Linked DNA regions of Homo sapiens: region 1 is linked to region 2. Evidence: fine-mapped expression QTL. A gene starts in region 2. The other region holds a variant in brackets. All regions are shown on one strand. Distances are between the middles of the regions.

Region 1 (9,207 bases), 46 kb before region 2:
GCGCCCGGCCCCATCTCTCTTCTATCAGCTTCCGTGTGCGCGGTCCAGCTTCTGAGCTCTTTGTTTGCTCTGGTCTGAATGTTTTTGTCCCCCTAAATTCATATACCGAACCCTAATCCCCCAGTTGATGGTATTAGGAGGTGGGGATGTTGGGAGGTGATTAGGTTATGGGGATTAGTGTAACTGAACTCGGGTTCAGGCCACTCACTCGCCGACATTCGAGAGACAAGTTTTGGTAAAAGGAAAGGTAGCTTTATTCGAGAAGCCAGCAGCTTGGGAGGTGGGGGCAGGGGCACTGAACTCTTGTGTTCAAAGATCACCTCTCCAAGTTGTGTCTCCAGATGCACGTTTTTAAGGGAAATCTGGGGAAGTGCGAATGATGATCAAAGCATTCTTGTGGAACAGCAGCTATGTGCGCAGTCTCAGGCAGGTAGTTACGATTGCTGTCTTGCGGGGATGTCATGTGACCTTTTGCAAGTGCAGCTATTTTTTTTTTTTTTTTTTTTTTTTTTTTTTTTGGAACAGGGTTTCATTCTGTTGCCCAGGCTGGAGTGCAGTAGCATGATCACGGCTTACTGTAGCCTTGACCTCCCCAGGTTCAGGTGATCCTCCCACCTCACCCTCTACAGTAGCTGGGACTAAAGGCACGCACCATCACACCTGGCTAATTTTAAAATTTTTTTTAGAGATTGGGTTTTACCAAGTTGCCCAGGCTGGTCTCCAACTCCTGGGCTCAAATGATCTCTCCCCCTCAGCCTCCCAAAGTGCTGGCTGCACCAGGCCAGCCAGATTAGTCTTAGTTTTGCTTTTTTTTTGGACAGTCTCACTCTGTTGCCCAGGCATGGCTCATTGCAGCCTTGACTTCACTGGCTCAGGGGATCCTTCCACCTCAGCCTCCTGAGTAGCTGGGACTACAGGCGTGTGCCACACCTACTTAAATTTTGTTACTATTTATAGAGACGGGGTCTCCCTATTTTGCCCAGGCTGGTCTCAAACTTTTGGACTTACGTGATCCTCCTGCCTCGACCTCAGCCCAACTATTCTCATCTGGTGGGTGGAAACCTGCGGCTAGCCGCTTCCAGGATTGCTGGTCAGTGCACTTCTCTCTTATCTCTGCTGAAGGTCCTCTTTCCCTGAGGCTGTTTTTAATGAATAGTGTGTAAGCGTAAGCAAAGCTGTAATTATACTCAAGCAAACACAATTTTTCTTTAAGGTAGACTCAGTACTGTTATATTAGCACCCTCCTAGAAACCGAGCCCAGAGAGCTGCCTTGCCCCTTCTGCCATGTGAGGACGGAGCAAGACGGCACCATCTATAGACCAGGAAACAGCCCCTCCCCAGACACCGAATCTGCTGGCACCTTGGACTCCCAGCATCCAGAATTGGGAGAAATAAATTCCTGTTGTTGATAAGCCACTCAGTGTATGGTATTCTTTTTTTTTTTTGAGACGGAGTCTCGCTCTGTCACCCAGGCTGGAGTGCAGTGGCACAATCTCGGTTCACTGCAAGCTCCGCCTCCCGGGTTCCCGCCATTCTTCTGCCTCAGCCTCCCGAGTAGCTGGGACTACAGGCCGCCCGCCACCACGCCCGGCTAATTTTTTGTATTTTTAGTAGAGACGGGGTTTCACTGTGGTCTCGATCTCCTGACCTTGTGATCCGCCCACCTTGGCCTCCCAAAGTGTACGGGATTCTATGACAGCAGCCCAAACGGACGAAGATGTGCACTTGTGTGTGTGTGTGTGTGTGTGTTTTTTTTTTTTTGAGACAGAGTTTCGCTCTTGTCGCCCAGGCTGGAGCGCAGTGGCACGATCTCGGCTCACCGCAATCTCCGCCTTCTGGGTTCAAGAGATTCTCCTGCCTCAGCCTCCCGGGTAGCTGGGATTACAGGTGCCCACCACCATGCCCGGCTAATTTTGTATGTTTAGTAGAGACGGGGTTTCTCCATGTTGGTCAGGCTGGTCTCGAACTCCTGACCTTAGGTGATCAGCCCGCCTCGGCCTCCCAAAGTGCTGGGATTACAGTCGTCTGCCACTAAGCCTGGCTAATTTTTGTATTTTTTTAGAGAGGGGGTTTCACTATGTTGGCCAGCCTGGTCTCGAACTCCTGGCCTCTAGTGATCCACCCACCTTGGCCTCCCAAAGTGCTGGGATTACAGGCACGAACCACTGTACCTAGCCCCAGTGCACTTCAGAATCATCCTGTCAAGTTCCGCAATAAACCTGTTGGGGATTGTCAGTGAGCAACGTAGTTTATTGGGAGTTTGGTGGTGGTGGTTTGTAAAAAAAAAAAAAAAAAAAAAAAAAAAACAAACAACAACAACAAAAAACAGGCCATTCACAGTGGCTTGAGCCTGTAATCCCAGCACTTTGGGAGGCCTAGGTGGGAGGATCGCTTGAGCTCAGGAGTTCAAGACCAGCTTGGGCAACATAGTGAGACTGCGTCTCCACAAACATTTTAAAAATTAGTTGGGTGTAGTGACTCATGCTTGTAGTCCCAGCTACTCAGGAGGGTGGGATGGGAGGACTACTTGAGCCCAGGAGTTAAGAGGTTCCAGTGAGCTATGATAGTGCCACTGCACTCCCACCTGGGTGACAGAGCGAGACCCTGTGTCTAAAAAAGTAAAATGAAATGAAATAACAACAAAGCAACAAATGGATGTTAGATTTTAGCCAATATTCTGTCTATTGTGGGTGGGTTTTCCCCTGTCATCTATATTCTTCTCACTCTTCCCAGTTGAGGGTGCTGGGTGCTGGAGGGACCGCAGGGGGAAGTGGCTCTCTTGCTGTTTCTGTTCTGGACGGGGATGGTCAGCATGGGTGATGGTACTTTCAGTGCACATGATTTTTCTACAGCCTGGCTGCGCTGGGGATAACATTTCCATAGTCTTCTTTATTTTTTTCTGAGACAGGGTCTTGCTCTATTACCCCGGTTGGAGTTAGTGGCATGATCATGGCTCACTGAAGCCTCGACCTCCTGGGCTCAAGTGAGCCTCCCACCTCAGCCCCCAGAGTAGCTGGGACCACTGGTGCACACCACCACGCTCGTCTAAAGAATAGTTTTTGTAGAGATGGGGTCTCACTATATTGCCGAGGCTGGTCTGGAACACCTGGGCTCAAGCGATCCTTCTGCCTAGGGCTCCCAGCGTGTTGGAATTTCAGGCATGAACCACCACGCCTGGCCTCCGTAGTCTTCCTTTTTTTTTTTTTTTTGAGACGGAGTCTCACTCTTGTCACCCAGGCTGGAGTGCAGAGGCGGAGGTCTCCTCCGCCTCCCAGGTTCAAGTGATTGATTCTCCTGCCTCAGCCTCCCGAGTAGCTGGGACTACAGGCGCACACCACCACACCCGGTTAACTTTGTATTTTTAGTAGAGATGGGGTTTCACCATGTTGGCCAGCCTGGTCTTGAACTACTGACCACCAGTGATCCGGTTGCTTTGGCCTCCCAAAGTGCTGGGATTAAGGCATGAACCACTGCCCAGCCTCCATAGTCTTCTTGACACAGAAACCAAGCCTCATGCAGCCCACATGCTCTAAAGGGCTCCTGCCTCACTCCTTGTGCCTCAACCTCCCACTGCACATCCATGCCTCTGGTGGCTGCTCACCTGACCCCACCTCACAGGGGTGGCCTATTGCTTGGTCAGCAACTCCAGCCCAGCTCCTGCCTGGCCAAACCAGAGACTGTCTTTGCTGTCTGGTGGCCAAACTGCACGTTGTCCAGAGGTCTGACTCCTTCCAAGCTGGTCCTTTCTGGGTACTTTCCTTCAGCCCTAGAGTACCAAATAATTTCCTACATCTTACAGTTTACTCTTTAAAACGGTTTAGGCCGGGCACATTGGCTCACGCCTGTAATCCTGGCACTTTGGGAGGCCGGGGCAGGCAGATCACCTGAGGTCAGGAGTTCCAGATCAGCCTGGCCAACATGGTGAATCCCCGTCTCTACTAAAAATACAAAAATTAGCTGACGCAGTGGTGCATCTCTAGTAGCAGCTACTCGGGAGGCAGAGGCTGGAGAATTGCTTGAACCCAGGAGGTGCAGGTCGCAGTGAGCTGAGATCTTGACACTGCACTCCAGCCTGGGCGACAGAGTGAGACTCTGTCTCGGGAAAAAAAAAAAAAAGTTTTAAAATTGAGATATAATTCACAGACCATAAAATTCATCTTCCAAAGTTTTTAATTCATTGGTTTCTAGTATATTCACAAAGTTGTGCAACCATCATTCCACAATTTCATCATCTTCCAAAGAAAGCCCGTCCCTGTTAGCTGTCATGCCTCTTCTCTCTTCCTCCAGTACCTGGCAACCACCAATGTGCTTTGTCTCTGATACACAGATTTGCCTATTCTGGACATTTCACATAAACTCGTGATTGGCTTCTTTCACTTAGCGTAATATTTGTAGGATTCACTCAGGCTGTGGCATGCGTCAGAATTTCCTTCCTTTTTATGGCCAAATAATATTCCATTGTATGGACAGAACACACTTCATGTCTTAATTCATCTGTGGATGGACATTTGGGTTGTTGCTACCGTTTGACTTTTGAGTAATGCTGCTATGAACGCGGGAGCACAGGTATTGTGTGGATGGATGTTTTCAATTCTCTTGGGCATAGACCTGGGAAGGTTATACTTTTATTGATATTAATAGTTCTGATATTGGACATCCCTGCTGTGTGGTTTCACCTCTCATGGACTCTGACGGCTGCTGTGCCTTCTCTGCTCGGCAGGCGGTGCCCTGAGGCACAGGTGGGCGTCTGGGGCTGGAACTCTCGCTAGGCGCTACAACTTCCTCTCCTGCCCTGTGGCAGAGCCAAGCCCCTTGCAGGGCTGTTGCCAGCATGGGATGAGTCTATGAAAACACGTGGCACGCAGTAGGTCCACAGTTACCACTGGCAGCCTGGCAAGCCTGGCAGGGCCCGGACGGCAGATGCGCTTCGGTGCTGCTGTGAGTCTTGTG[C/T]TCTGCCTTAGGCAGAAAGTCCTGGGTTTGTGTTTTGTGAATGAATGACGCATGAGTGTGCCAAATATCCTTTACGTGACAGAAGAGGAGAGGGCTGGCTTGATTGAGTGTGGGGGGGAAGAACCTGGATCTTGTAATGTAATTTTTGTTTAAAAAAATTAGGGAAAAACCCCAAATATGACCATTTCCTGCCATTAGCCTGCAGATGAGCAGCTGACTCCCCAGTCCCATCCCTCCGCACTGCTTTTCCCTGTCCTGGGTCTGTTCTGTTACATGGAGTTCCTGGGGGAAGCCCTGGGGCCGGGGCATCTGCCCAGGGCTCACTGCTGTTGAAAGTGAATAAAGAACGTCCGGATTTCCTTTGGGTGGACGGTGATGATGGGGCCTCCTGGTGGCCTCGAGGGAGAGGTGGTGTCACCTAGGGGAACAGAGGTGATCTGTCCAGTGTGGCCTGGGATGCCTCCTCCCAGCCTCCCTCTCACCCCCTGCACCTGTCTACAGTCTGCTGTGGCTCCCAGCCTCCCTCTCACCCTCCTGCACCTGTCTACAATCTGCTGTGGCTCCCAGCCTCCTTCTCACCACACTGCACCTGGCTACAGTCTGCTGTGGCTCCCACCGTGGCAACGGCCTATGGCATCCCCTTCTGCCAGGACTCCTGTGGGCCTCTTGGCGTTTCTGCCCACCCTGAGGGCAATTCATAGGTTGGTCCTGGCCCTAGTGGCCTCAATTCCTCATGGGTGTTGCCCTCAAAGCCCAAGAGCTTTCTGAGACCATCTGGTGAGTCTGCCCTTGCCTCACCAGGCTCCCCTGAAGGCATGCCCTGGGGTTGGGCTTCGATCTTGGGAGGGAGCCGTCCACTTATCTATCACTCATCCATCTTCCTTCCTTCTTTCCAACCAACATCATCTTCCCTCCCTCCCTCCCTCCGTCCCTTCCTTCCTCCCACCACCAACTGAGCGTGCACCATGCACCCGCCACCATGCTGTGTGTAGTGGACAACGAGCTGCACAGGACAGAAGAAACCCCTGGGGCCAGGAGAGTGGAGGAGGCACTTGGCCTGGTTGGTGACTCTGGGGAGGCATCCTGGGGAGCTTGAGCAGGTGCTGGCCAGAGTGAATGGGACCTGTGCGTCCCAGGCAGAGGGCATGGTGCGGACAGGGAGTGGAGCCTGGAAGCTGCCTGTAGTGCAGGAGCTCACGGTGGCACATGTCGTATGAGGCAGGGACCGGCTGATGGGCTGAGGTCAGCAGGGCCAAGGTGGGCAGAAGCCCCTGGGCCCCTAGCTGTCACCCAGGGCACAGGCAGGGCGTGTGGTCTGCGTGTGCACACGTACAAGTGCACACACACGCCTGTGTGGAGCCCTGGCAGGCAGAGACTAACCCAAAGCCTTTCTTAACCGACTGTAGTAGATTTGGGAGGGCTGCGGGTTCAGAGTAGGAAAGCAGCCTCGCAAGGTCGCACAGGCCGGGACAGGCAGATGGTTGGATGTGCACCGGGTCTGACCAGCTGCTGAGCCTGGCTGGGAGTCCTGGGTAGGGAGCTGAAGCGGGGGTCCCCAAACCTCTGTGGCGGCCAGGCCCCGTCCTCCAGCTCCAGCGGTGCAGCATGCTCAAATCCCAGGTCCCTGTGAGCGAGCGCTCCTCCACTGCCACCACGGACCCCAGCGCCTGCAGCACAGCCTGCAGGGAGAGGAGCAGAGGGAGAGTGAGCTGCACCAAGTTCCAGAGCTGAGCAGAGAACCAAGACAGCAGCAGGGCAGACACACCACGAACTCGGTGTCCTCAGGAGCCCAGGTCCTCCCCTGGTGCCTGACACAGCTCCCTCATCTGCTTCTCACAGCACATCTGCGAGGACAGGACTGGCCGTGTACTTTACAGATGAGGACACTGAAGCGGGAGGTGCATGCTTTACCAGGTGGCCGAGCTGGAGGAGCAGCCCGGGAGGTGTGGCATTTTGAGCTGCCCACCCCACCGCGGAGTTCTCCTCTCCCCACATTGCTCAGGTGGCCCCGTGCCCAGTCCAGGGAGGAAGCCAGCCACAGTTACCCCATCCCCCTTTCCCAATAGGCCTTGTCCCAGCCTCCCTTACACCTAGGGGAGGCAGGAGGCCCTTAGGGGTCTGGAAAAGTCTGTGGAGCAGGAGGGCTGGGGGTGGCTCTTGGAGAAGCTTCTGTGTGCTGACGGAGGGAGAGAGCCACGCTAGGGCAAGGCCTTTCTGGCCACTACTGCTGAGCCCTACCCTGCCTTGAAATTTGCTCATGAGGGAGGCCTGTGCCATCTTGTGACCGCAAACAAGCAGACGGCAAAAGACAAAAGCCAGTCTGCCGGCGATGGCGGGAAGATGACAGTGATCGGGCCCACGGTGACAGCGCTTGGGGTCCATCGGACATGCCTGTTCGGTGAGAAAACACTCTGTCCTCTGTTCTAAGCACATCTGTTAGGTGTTTTGTGACTTGCAGCCAAACTCACTGCGTTCCTAACTCAATGGTCTTTCCACCCCACCACCGTCCACGTTGGGCAGGGAGTCATGGTGTCCATCCCAACCGTCTCCTTGTCTCAGGGCCTTGGTGCTTCCATCTGTGAAACGGGGGAGCATCAGATGACCAACTTCCAGGTCCCACGCTGGCCTCCTTGCTTCCCAGGGCAGGCTGGCCCTGTGCTGGGCACTGGTACCCGCCATGGCCTAGACCTGCTCTCAGGCAGGCCAGGGACCGTGAGGAAAGGATCCTCCGTGGCGAGGATCATGAAAGAGGAGGTGGGTGGCCCAGTAAGACATCATGGCGAAAAGGTACTGGGGCTTCTCTGGATTCCCCTGAAGACTCAGATGTCGAAGGAGGCCCAAGGCAGAAACACAGAGATTCACAGAAATTCTCCATGAGCAGGAAATGAAATAGAAAGAATGCAAACTGGGAAAGAAATGAGGCGGCTCAGGTCATGCCTTCTGGGGAGGGAGCGTGGGCAGGCCAGGTGGCGGAAGCCTCGCCTGATAGTAGAGCTGAGAGGGCAACATCAGCCAAGAGGGGAACCTGGAAGGGGACGAGGCCTGGGGGCCCTGACACTGCACGAGGCCCCTTAGTGCCAGGGCCTCTCAGCAACCTTCTGGGCAAAGAACTCTCACCTCTCCCCATTTTACATGGGGGGAAACTGAGGCCCAGAGGCATGGGGTGCCGGAGATGCCCCCGTAGAGGGGCCTGGGTGTGGACCCTGGATTGTCTGACTCTAAGTCACCTTTCAAAGCAACTCTATGGGGAATCTGTTTTGTTTTTGGATTACACAGATGTTGTCTGTGTTTTAAAAGTTTTACCACAGAATAAATAAGAAAGAAAATACAGGCCACTCACGCCTGTAATCCCAGCACTTCAGGAGGCTAAGACAGGCAGATTGCTTGAGGCCAGACGTTCGAGACCAGCCTGAGCAACACAGCAAGACCGTGTCTCTACTAAAAATAAAAAAACTAGGCCAGGCTTGGTGGCTCACGCCTGTAATCCCAGCACTTTGCGAGGCCGAGGCAGGTGGATCACCTGAAGTCAGGGGTTCGTGACCAGCCTGACCAACATGGAGAAACCCTGTCTCTACTAAAAGTACAAAAAAATTAGCCGGGCGTGGTGGCACATGCCTGTAATCCCAGCTACTCGGGAGGCTGAGGCAGGAGAATCACTTGAACCTGGGAGATGGAGGTTGCAGCCAGCTGAGAGCGCACCATTGCACTCCAGCCTGGGGGACGAGAGCGAAACTCGGTCTCAAAAAAAAAAAAAAAAACTTAGCCATCGTGGTGGCGCGCCCCTGTGATCCCAGTTACTTGGGAGGTTGAGGTGGGAGGATCACTTGAGCCAGGGAGGCAGAGGTTGCAGTGAGCTGAGATTGTGCCACTGCACCCCAGACTGGGCAACAGAGTGAGATCCTGTCTCACATATACACAAAAAACCCTAAAAAACCAGGCCAGTTGTAATACCTGACAAACCCAGAAGACCATGAAGAAGGGCGGGGTGGGGCCCATACCAGCGTCCATTTGGGAGGAAGCCCTCGTGGATCTCTTTGCCAAGGCAGTTTCTTGGGGCTTCATCTAGGGTTTGCTTCCCTGGCTTATGGTCTGGATGGGGGTGGGGAAGTTCACCTCCAGATTCACTGTCACTGGCTGAGACAGGACTGGGTCCTCGCCCACTTCATATAGGTGGTAGAGCCGCAGCAGGACACGGCGGAGGTCAGCCTGGGCTTCCCCTCGATGGCCTTTGGGGACAGAAGGAAGGTGGCAGTGAAG
Region 2 (9,398 bases):
TGTGTCTCTGGAGGCTCTTCCTGCCCCAGAGCGACACAGCCTCAGCTTCCCTGAGGCTTCCAGTTGCCAGGTCAGACCTGCAGGGTCAGCGCTGGGGTATCAGCACTTAGGCACGGTGGGCTGAGGCCAGAGGCGAGGTACCCCAGTGGTGGGTACCCTCAGGGCAGGGCAGTTCAGCGCCCACCCCTTGCCCAGCCTTGCCCAGTAAGCAGTGGTCTGGGCCAGACCCTATGCTGGGTGCTGAGATGAGTCAGATGGGGGTCCCTGCCAGGGGCATCTTGAGGTTCAGCGGTTAAGTGGGGAGGTGACACAGAACTGCAGAGACTCAGAGATTTCCTGCGGGAGGGGCTTCTCAGCTGCATCTTGAGGAGGAGGGTGGAGAATGAGGGGGAGCACTGCGTGAAATGGCACAGGTGAGAAACAGCCCCAGAGCCTCCTCGCTGGCACGGGGCAGGAGGCAGGTGGGGGACACGCCTACAGTGTCACACATTCCCTGGCAGTGGGCTTGTGAAGGGGTGTGGGGGAAGTCTGTTGGGATAGATCCCTTGCCCACACTTCACATGGGGGAGTGAAAGAGCAGGGGCTCTGGAGTCAGGGAGCCACAGCAGGCGGCTGAGGGCAAGGTGCTCCCTCTGAGCCTTGCTGTCCTCCCCTGTTACCTCTGGGCCTGTGGGGATGCAGGGGGACAAGCAGGGGCTGAGCTCCTGGCCACAGGAGGAGCTCTGTCTGTAGGGCTGTGTCCATCACGCCTCCTTCTCATGGAAGGGCAAGTCTAGGGTTTGAGCAAAGTCCAGATGTAAGGCAGTAAGAAACTGAGACAGGGGAACACTCCAGATTACAGATGAGAAAAGGGAGAGTGCCAAAAACATCCTTTGACAACATTGCTCTCTGCCTGGATGTTTTACAAATGGGGAAATCAGGGCCCATGCTGTAGTGGAGTGACTGTGGACTCGGAGCTTCAGTCCCTAGGCCTGGACTCAAGTCCTGGCCATCTACCCTGGAGAGAGTTACTGCATTTCTTTGGATCTCAGTTTCTACATCTGCAAAATGAAACTGGGCATCACCATGCCTCACCATCAGCCCGCCATTAGGATTGGCTGGGGTGTCACTGTGAAAGGCATTTGGTAAATGGTGAGTAGAGTGCCCCACGGCACTGTGGGTGATGGTGCTGAGGACAGTGGACACAATGGTGAGGGAGATGGTCATGGTGGTGGTGATGATGATTGTGGAGGGGATGGTAGTAATGGATGTGGTGATGGTGGTGGCGACAGTGATGGGTGGTGATCATGGTGATAGTGTTTAGGGGGTGGTGGTGATGGTAGTGGTAGTAATGGTCATTGTAGTGGTGAAGATGATGGTGGTAGTGGTGATGGTGGTGATGGTAGTGGTAGTAATGGTAGTGGTAGTGGTGGTCATAGCAGTGGTGAAGGGTGGTGGTGATGGTAGTTATGATGGTGGTGGTGATGGTAGTGGTAGTGATGGTCATTGTGGTGGTGAAGGGTGGTGGTGATGGTGAAGGGTGGTGGTGATGGTGGTGGTGATGGTGATGGTGGTGGTGGTGATGGTGAAGGGTAGTGGTGGTGGTGGTGATGGTGATGGTGGTGGTGATGGTGATGGTGGTGGTGGTGGTGGTGGTGATGGTGGTGGTGGTGGTGATGGTGGTGGTGATGGTGATGGTGGTGGTGATGGTGGTGGTGGTGATGGTGGTGAAGGGTGGTGGTGGTGATGGTGGTGGTGGTGGTGGTGATGGTGATGGTGGTGGTGCTGGTGATGGTGATGGTGGTGGTGGTGGTGGTGATGGTGATGGTGGTGGTGATGGTGGTGGTGGTGGTAGTGGTGATGGTGATGGTGGTGGTGCTGGTGATGGTGATGGTGGTGGTGGTGGTGATGGTGATGGTGGTGGTGATGGTGGTGATGGTGGTAGTGGTGATGGTGATGGTGGTGGTGGTGGTGATGGTAGTGGTAGTGATGGTCATCGTGGTGGTGGTGGTGATGGTAGTAGTCATGGTCATTATGGTGCTGAAGGTGGTAATTGTGATGGAAGGCAGCAAACACTTACTGAGCATTTACTAGGGAACCCACATCCTACTAAAGTGCTTTATTTGAATTATCCCATTTAATACTCACAACAACCCTTTGAGGTAGGTATTACCATCAAACTCATTTTATCTATGAGGAAACTGAAGTTACATTCCTTTCCAGGGTCACAGAGGAGGGAATTGGCAGAGCCAGGATATATTGAGACCATCTGACTCTAGCATCCATGCTCTTAACCCCTACATTCAACTTCCTTGGTGAGGCATGAATATGGCACTAGCAAATCACTGCTTTCACTGGTTAAGGTCCCCGACCCCACTAAGAGGGGCAGACAGAGCTCAGAACCTGGGGGTTCTGATACCATGTCCCAGCCCCACTGGAGGTCCTGAGGGACCCTGGGTGCAGGGTAGGGTGGCCAAACCTGTGAGCTGCAGGATCTGGTCATCAAGGTGCGTCACAGCCTCGTCATGCATGACCTGGCCTCCGATGACAAATTCCAGGCGTCCTTCCTCCAGGAGCTGGCGGACCTTGACATGGGCAGGCAGAGAGAAAAAAGCCAGTTACGGCTCCTGAGCATGGCTGGGTCTGTGGGGAACACACCTACAGCGCCACACACGCCCTGCATAAAACTCCCCACCCTTGCTTACTCTATAAAAGCAGGGCACTGTCTGTCCTGGTCCACACTGTGTTCCCACCACCTAGAAATCATGCAGCCCTCAGGTGGTATTTGAGATATATATTTGTATATATAAGATTTTCTTAAATCTTATTTTATTAACTAATTCTAAACTTTAGAAAAGTTTCAGGAATAGAACAAAGAGCTCCCATATCCTTTCCCAAGGTTCACTCATCACTACCATTTTTAACCTATTTGCTTAACATCCCCGTCTCTACACACATAACACCTTTGTTGCCCTAGACACTACACACCTCAGTATGTGTACACACAGCTGTTTATAGGCTGTGCCTTTGGTTTGTTTCTTAAGGTGCACTATATGTAGATCATTCACTCAACAAATGTTAAGTGAGCACCTACTACACAACCAGCACTGTTCAGGCACTGGGGGTTCAGCAGTGAATGAAGCAGGCAACAATTCCTGCCTCCAGGGAGCTCTGCCACAAGTTTCCTGTCCAGGTCTTCACTGGGCCATGCAGGCCATGCTTCTCTTTGAGGGCTAGGAGACAGACCACTGGGTTTGGTGGGGTCCACCTGAAGAAGCATGGGACGCTCACAGGATATCCTGGAAAGGCCTGCCTCGAGTCAGGCATGCCTGGCTCAGAATCCCACCTGCCGCTTACAAGCTGTGTGACTGCAGGCCAGTGGCGTGCCCTCTCTGAACCTGGAATGTCTCTTTAACTTGAGGTAAGAACCCCACTATCTGGCAGCATCAAGTGGCCATTGGATGTCCGGCTCCTTCCCGTGACTCTGGCGGGGCCTGGTGGACGCCCTGCTCTCCCTTCTCCGCTTCACTCCCTTGAGCAAGTCACTTGGCGTCCCTGAACTTTATGTTCAGCAACTATTCTGAAGGCAGGTGGATACCTGGGAGGAAACTAAGAACCCCCGAGTATCGTCCTGGGTGCTCACGCCAGGGCTTCATTCTTGGCATGACTTTTCTGCAATGGGGCGGTCACCCCCGTTTAATAGAAGTGGAATCTGTGGCTCGCAGGGGCTAGTCGTGTCCCCTGGTGCGGGAGCAGGATGGGACCCAGGCTGCCTCACTGTGCAGCGGGGACTCTGACTCTCCATGCTGTATGAAGCAACCTGCTGCCTACCCTCAAACCACAGGGACTATCGCACCCTCATCAAGGGTCACCAGACCCTGGGCCCGGGGGCCAGGCAGATAACACAAATGAGAGAAGAGGGTGAGGGCTTGGGGACACCTGGGATGCCTGGTGTCAGGGGGCACTGCTGACTTAGTGCCAGCTGGCACGGAAGTGCACAGCTGGGTTGCCAGAGCTGGCAGTTTTTTCAAGAATAGACAGAAATTCAGGATTAAATTGAAAGCAATCTCTCCCAGGCATGGAACTCACCGTGAACCTTGATCTAAACAAGGCTGTGAATAGCCCGGTGGGGTTTTGGCCCTGTGGTTTATGCCAGCCTGGCCCTGGCCCTGGCTAGAACTGCCCCATTGAGTTTTCCACCTGGGTCTTTGCCAGGATACTGGGCCAACTGTGTCACCTGGTGACCTCATTACCTGGTATTTCTGCTGGTCCGAGGCGACGCCATCCCACCACAGCCGGAAAAACTCCTGCTCCACAGCGATGAACCGGCGCTGCTGGCCGCGGGCCAGCTCTTCCACCACTGAGGTGTAGACATTGGCGGCGTACGCCCGCATGCTTTCCTGGGGAGGGGACAGCATCATGCCAGCCCCGGTCCAACAAGACCAAGTGTCCCTGGGGCCCCTGCCATTCGCCAGGTGTGTCTGCATGGGGTTGGGGGCTCTGCCCTTCCTTCCCTGCTGCTCACCCCCCACACAGCTATTAGGCACTCGCTCCATACCAGGCTCTCCCCACTGGATGGGATCGTGCTCTCCTGGGGGAGAGGGACGGGGAAACAGACACCCTACATGGGCAGAGACAGGTGCCCTCCCAGCCCAGGGGTCAGGGACAGTTTCTCAGAGGGGTGAGCAAGCTGGGCCTTGAGTGTGCAATTTGGGGGGCTGGGCCCTGAGTGTGCCATTGAGGGGCAGCACAGGAAAGTCTTAGGCCTCAGTCGGGGTGTGGTCCAGTGACCCCAAAGGGGCCTGCTGGGGCTGAAATGAGGAAAGCTGGTGCTGAGAGGAAGAGCTCCCCAGGCTGTCCCTGGCGTCTAGGCGTCTGCCTCCCCAAGGCTGGGAGCTCCAAGGACCACAGCTGTAGTGTGTTCCCATCCGAGTCCCGAGGGCCCTGCACACAGGGTGCCCACAGAGTGCTTACATGAATGGAAGGAGCACCGAGCAGGGAGTCAGGAGGCATGAGGGTTATTCCCGAGCGACCTTGGGCAAGGCAGCAACCCTCTCTGGGCCTCGGTTTTCTCCTCTGGAAACTGGCTGTAGTGGGCATGCTTCCCCTACCCTTTACAGATGGGGAAACTGAGGCTTAGGGACCAAAGCCCCTCGCCCAAGGTCCTGAGCAGAACCAGGAGGTGACCACAGGTCCACCTTCACCCCTGTCCTGGGGGGCGGAGGACGCTGAGCTGGCCTCCAATATTCAGCCCCGCAGGGGACCAGCCCGGCCCCTTCCCAGCGGGCACCTGACATCCACCTGCTCTGAAGCCAGCCCCACCCTCTCCTGCTCCAGGCTTCCCTGGAAAATGGGTTACCACTGTCAACCCCCAAGCCCCTCCCCAGCCGGGAATGCAGGGGTCCCTCCAATCTGCACCACCCTCCAGAAGGGGAAATGGGGGTTCAGAGGCAGGAAGTGACTGGCCCGAAGTTAGCGACGCAACCAGTCAATGGCAGCGTGGGGTCCTGAACCCACTGAGCCTCCTTCTGCGCCGGCATCGGGCCCCGGGACGCAAACCCACACTCAGATCCCGCGGGGAGAGGGAAGCTGCAGCCTCAGGGGCGCGCGGGGCGTGGTCGGCACCTACCTGCACAGTGTAGACCCAGCCCACGTCCATGTGGCTGTGGGGCACCACGAAGGCCCGGATGGGGCCGGCGGACTGGACCCCTGGCGGTCGCAGCAACAGGAGCGGTGCCAGCAGCGGCAGCCAGCACAGCTGCCCCATCCCTGCGGCAGGCCGGGAAGGTGCCAGGCCCACTTCCGGGTCCGCGAGGGGCGGGGCGGCCGCGCGGGCGGGGACGCGGCCCATTGGCTGCGGGCGGGGGCGGGGCCCATTGGTTGCCGGCTGGACGCCGACCCCGGGAAGCTCGGGAAGGAGGAGCTGGAGGCGCGGGGCCCTCAGCGGGGCAGGGCGCCTGCTCTTTGCGGTTTAGCTCTCCATCCCCGTCTCCAGCTTTCTGGCCTTCCCTCCCTGTCCATCCTTTCAGCCCCATCTCCCCCAAGCCTGCCAGATCTCCCCCAACCAGAGGAGACCCCTCCTCGCCCAAAGCCCACGCTCTGGTGGTTCCTCTCGGAGCGTGTGCCTCTTCGCAATACCTGCATCCCGCCCTCTGGACTCGGCTCCGGGACTCTGAGGCTACCGTGCAAAATTCGGCTCAGCACGGACCCTGTGAGCTCTGCCACCAGGAACCTTCCCTGATAACCCTTTCCCTCCTCTCCCTGGCGTCGAAACCCCATCTGGGCGGCGCCATGGGGGGCTTGTTATGGGACTGTCTCCTTTTTTTTTTTTTGGACAGGATCTCACTCTGTCTCCCAGGCCGGAGTGCAGTGGCGCGATCAGGGCTCACTGCAGCCTTGACCTCCCGGGCCCAAGTGATCCTCCCACCTCAGCCTCCTGAGTAGCTGGGACCACAGGGGCACACTGCCACACCCAGCTAATTAAAAAAAAAATTTATAGAGATGGGGGCCTCACTATGTTGCCCAGGCTGGTCCCAAACTCCTGAGCTCAAGCGATCCTCCTGCCTCCGCCTCTCAAAGTGCTGGGATTACAGGCATAAACCAGCATGCCTGGCTCAACTGTCTCCATTTTAAGGAGGAGAACTGGCTTTCAGAGACAGTAACTGACTTGTCCAAGATCACGCAGTTAGTGGAGGAGCCAAGAGAAGCTTTCTGGGTTACTGGATGGTGACCTGGGGCGACATAGGTAACCTCGCTGAGCCTCAGTGAAATGGGTCCGATAGAGGAGCTGTGAACAAAGTAAGGATGCACCCAGGCTGAGAGCGTGAGCACAGCACCCCTTGCCTGCACTCAGGGGAGGTGCGGTCACATTGGTGCAGCCTGTTTGGGACTGTTGCCTGGAGTCAGCCCTGTCCACTACTCCCTGCCCAAGAAAGCAAGGGTCTGTGGCTTGGGGTTTACTGTCTGAGAACCACTTGGCTGTGCCCCTGCCTGGCATTTCCTAGCGGAACCAGAGCTGCAGCTCTGAGCAAAAGTGCTGGTCCTCTTGTCCATTATGTAACAAATGGAAACTGAGAACAGGTTCTCCAAGCAGGTCTCCCTCCTCCTTCTGTCCTGTCCACCCCCTGGGGACCCCTGCATCCCCATAGCCTCAGGTCAGATGGTCTGAGCCTGACGTGGACAGTACTCACTAACACATGTCCCCATGACCGGCCAGGCTCACAGCTGGGCTCCACTCTCCAGCCTCTGCAACCAGGTGCGGCCACGTGGCTAAGTGCTAGTCAATGGGATGGGTGGGGGCGGGCACTGTGCTCCTCTTCCAGGCTGGCCCCTAACAACCTCCTGTGGGTGAGCCCTGCTCTCTTACTCACCCACTGCTCCAGTGGAGGGCACTCCGAGGACCTCAGGGAGGTTAGAGCCACCAATGGAGGCTCTGAAGAACCACATGGAACCATGAGGAACCCAAAGAGCTGTGACAAGAGGGAGAAATAAGCTTTAATTGTGTTAAGCCACTGAGTTTATCGATAAGGCAGTGTCACAATCTTTGGCAGACTGTATCTGCCAAAGATGGGCTCCACAACATTACCCACCCCCCAAGCTCTTTGTAGAATTTGGTTGACGAGAAAAGCCACACTCTAAAATATCTCAGAACGTTTATTCTAAGCCAAATAGGAGTGACCATGGCCTGTGACACAGCCTCAGGAGGTCCTGAGAACAGGTGCCCAAGGTGGTTGGGCTATAGCTTTATACATTTTATGGGGACAGAAGTTACAGGCAAAGACATGAATCAATATATGTAAAGTATACATTGGTTTGGCCCAGAAAGGTGGGACATCTTGAAGTGGGTGGGTGGTGCTTCCAGGTCAGAGGAGGATTCAAAGATTTCCTGATTGGCAATTGGTTAAAAGAGTTAAGCTTTACCTGAAGAGTTGGAGTCGGCAGAAAGAAATGCTTGAGTTAAGACAATGGGGATGTGGAAGCTAAGGTTCTTGTTACATAGATGAAGCCTCCAGTTAGCAGGCTTCAGAGAGAATAGATGTGCATGTCTCTGGGGACCTTAAAAGGTATCAGACTCTCTGGAAAAGAGCTAGTAAGTAAGGAGATTCTCTACAGAATGCAAGTTTCCCCCACAAGAGATGACTTTGCAAGTCCATTTCAAAATATGTCAAAGAAAATTTATTTTGGGGTAAAATACTTTGATTTCCTTTAGGGCCTGCTCTCTGTCGTGTGTTGCTATACCAGAGTCATGTTAGAATCGGGTATCTGATTGCTACAAAAGTGTTCTGTCAGTCTTAGGAGGATCTCTATGTTAATGTTAATGCTGGTCAGCTGTGCCGAAACTTAAAGGGAGGAGGCTATGATGAGGCATGTGTGACCTCCCACTTCCCATCATGGCCTGAACTAGTTTTTTGGGTTTCTTTGGGGTCCCCTTGGCCGACAGGGGGTCCATTCTCTCAGCTGGGGCTTATAATTTTATTTTTGATTTACAATATGATCTTGACATTCTTCCTATTAGGAGATAGGGTCTATGTCTCCTCTCATTGAATCTTGTTTATTTATTGTTTTTTATTTTATTAATTTTTGTGTTTTTTAGAGATAGAGTCTTGCTCTGTTGCCCAGGCCAGAGTGCAGTGGTGGACTCCTAACTTACTTCAGCCTCAAACTCCTAGGCTCACGTGATCCCCCTGTTTCAGCCTCCTGAGTAGCTGAGACCACAGGTATGTGCCATCATGCCTGGCTAATGAAAACTTTTTTTTTTCTTTTTTTTTTAGATATAATATCCCGTTATGTTGCCCAGGCTGATCTTGAACTCCTGGGCTCGAGGCATCCTCCCACCACCATCTCACAAAGTGCTGAAATTATAGGTGTATGCCACCATGCCCAACTAATTTTTCTTTTCTTTTTTGTAGACAAGATCTCTCTATGTTGCCCAGGCTGGTCTCAAACTCCTAGCCTCAAGGGATTCTCCGAAAGTGTTGGGATTACATGCATAAGCCACTGTGCCTGGCCCATGGGCGGGCTTGTGACACACTTGTTACAAAGAGAATGTAGTGAAAGTTGTACTGTGTGACTTCCATGACATCCATGTTCACTGGAGCACTCGTGCCTGGAGGCCTGAGTTGCCCTGTCAGCAGTCCAACTACCCTGAGGCCACCATGCTGTGAGGAAGCCCAACCAGCCCACATGGGGCAGACCACAGGGAGCAGCTCAAGATCACCATGCTGTTTCAGCTCCAGCCCCCCATCTGACTACAACAACATGTGAGACCTCATGTCATTTTCTCTCCTGCCCACTGTATCACAGCTGTGTAGGGTTTCATTTGTACTTTCCTCAAGGCTCTTGCGTGAGCTCTTGCTGCAGCTAGTCTCAGGCTTGAAGGTGATACTCACAACCCCCTCCTGGATTATTCATTCAGATCC

What was found.
Region 1: its variant is fine-mapped to the expression of MAN2B2 in whole blood (INTERVAL, PIP 0.93).

What each region holds. Positions count from the first base shown.
Region 1 is chr4:6,617,349-6,626,555 of GRCh38, reverse strand. MAN2B2 (mannosidase alpha class 2B member 2) reads right to left here. Exons shown (of 19, transcript NM_015274.3): 17 at 9,064-9,176; 18 at 6,512-6,629; 19 at 3,194-5,368. The coding sequence ends at 5,271. Among named protein-coding and RNA genes, the nearest start is that of MRFAP1, 19 kb to the left of the region's middle. RefSeq lists a silencer at 3,913-4,106. The variant C/T (reference allele first, on the strand shown) is at 4,951.
Region 2 is chr4:6,571,559-6,580,956 of GRCh38, reverse strand. It overlaps MAN2B2 (mannosidase alpha class 2B member 2), which reads right to left and starts at 5,768. Exons shown (of 19, transcript NM_015274.3): 1 at 5,609-5,768; 2 at 4,233-4,379; 3 at 2,459-2,564. The coding sequence starts at 5,746. LOC105374365 (a long non-coding RNA gene) reads right to left here. Exons shown (of 3, transcript XR_925098.3): 2 at 7,350-7,448; 3 at 6,619-6,766. RefSeq lists a silencer at 5,519-5,978 and enhancers at 5,267-6,035, 6,036-6,803, 6,804-7,572.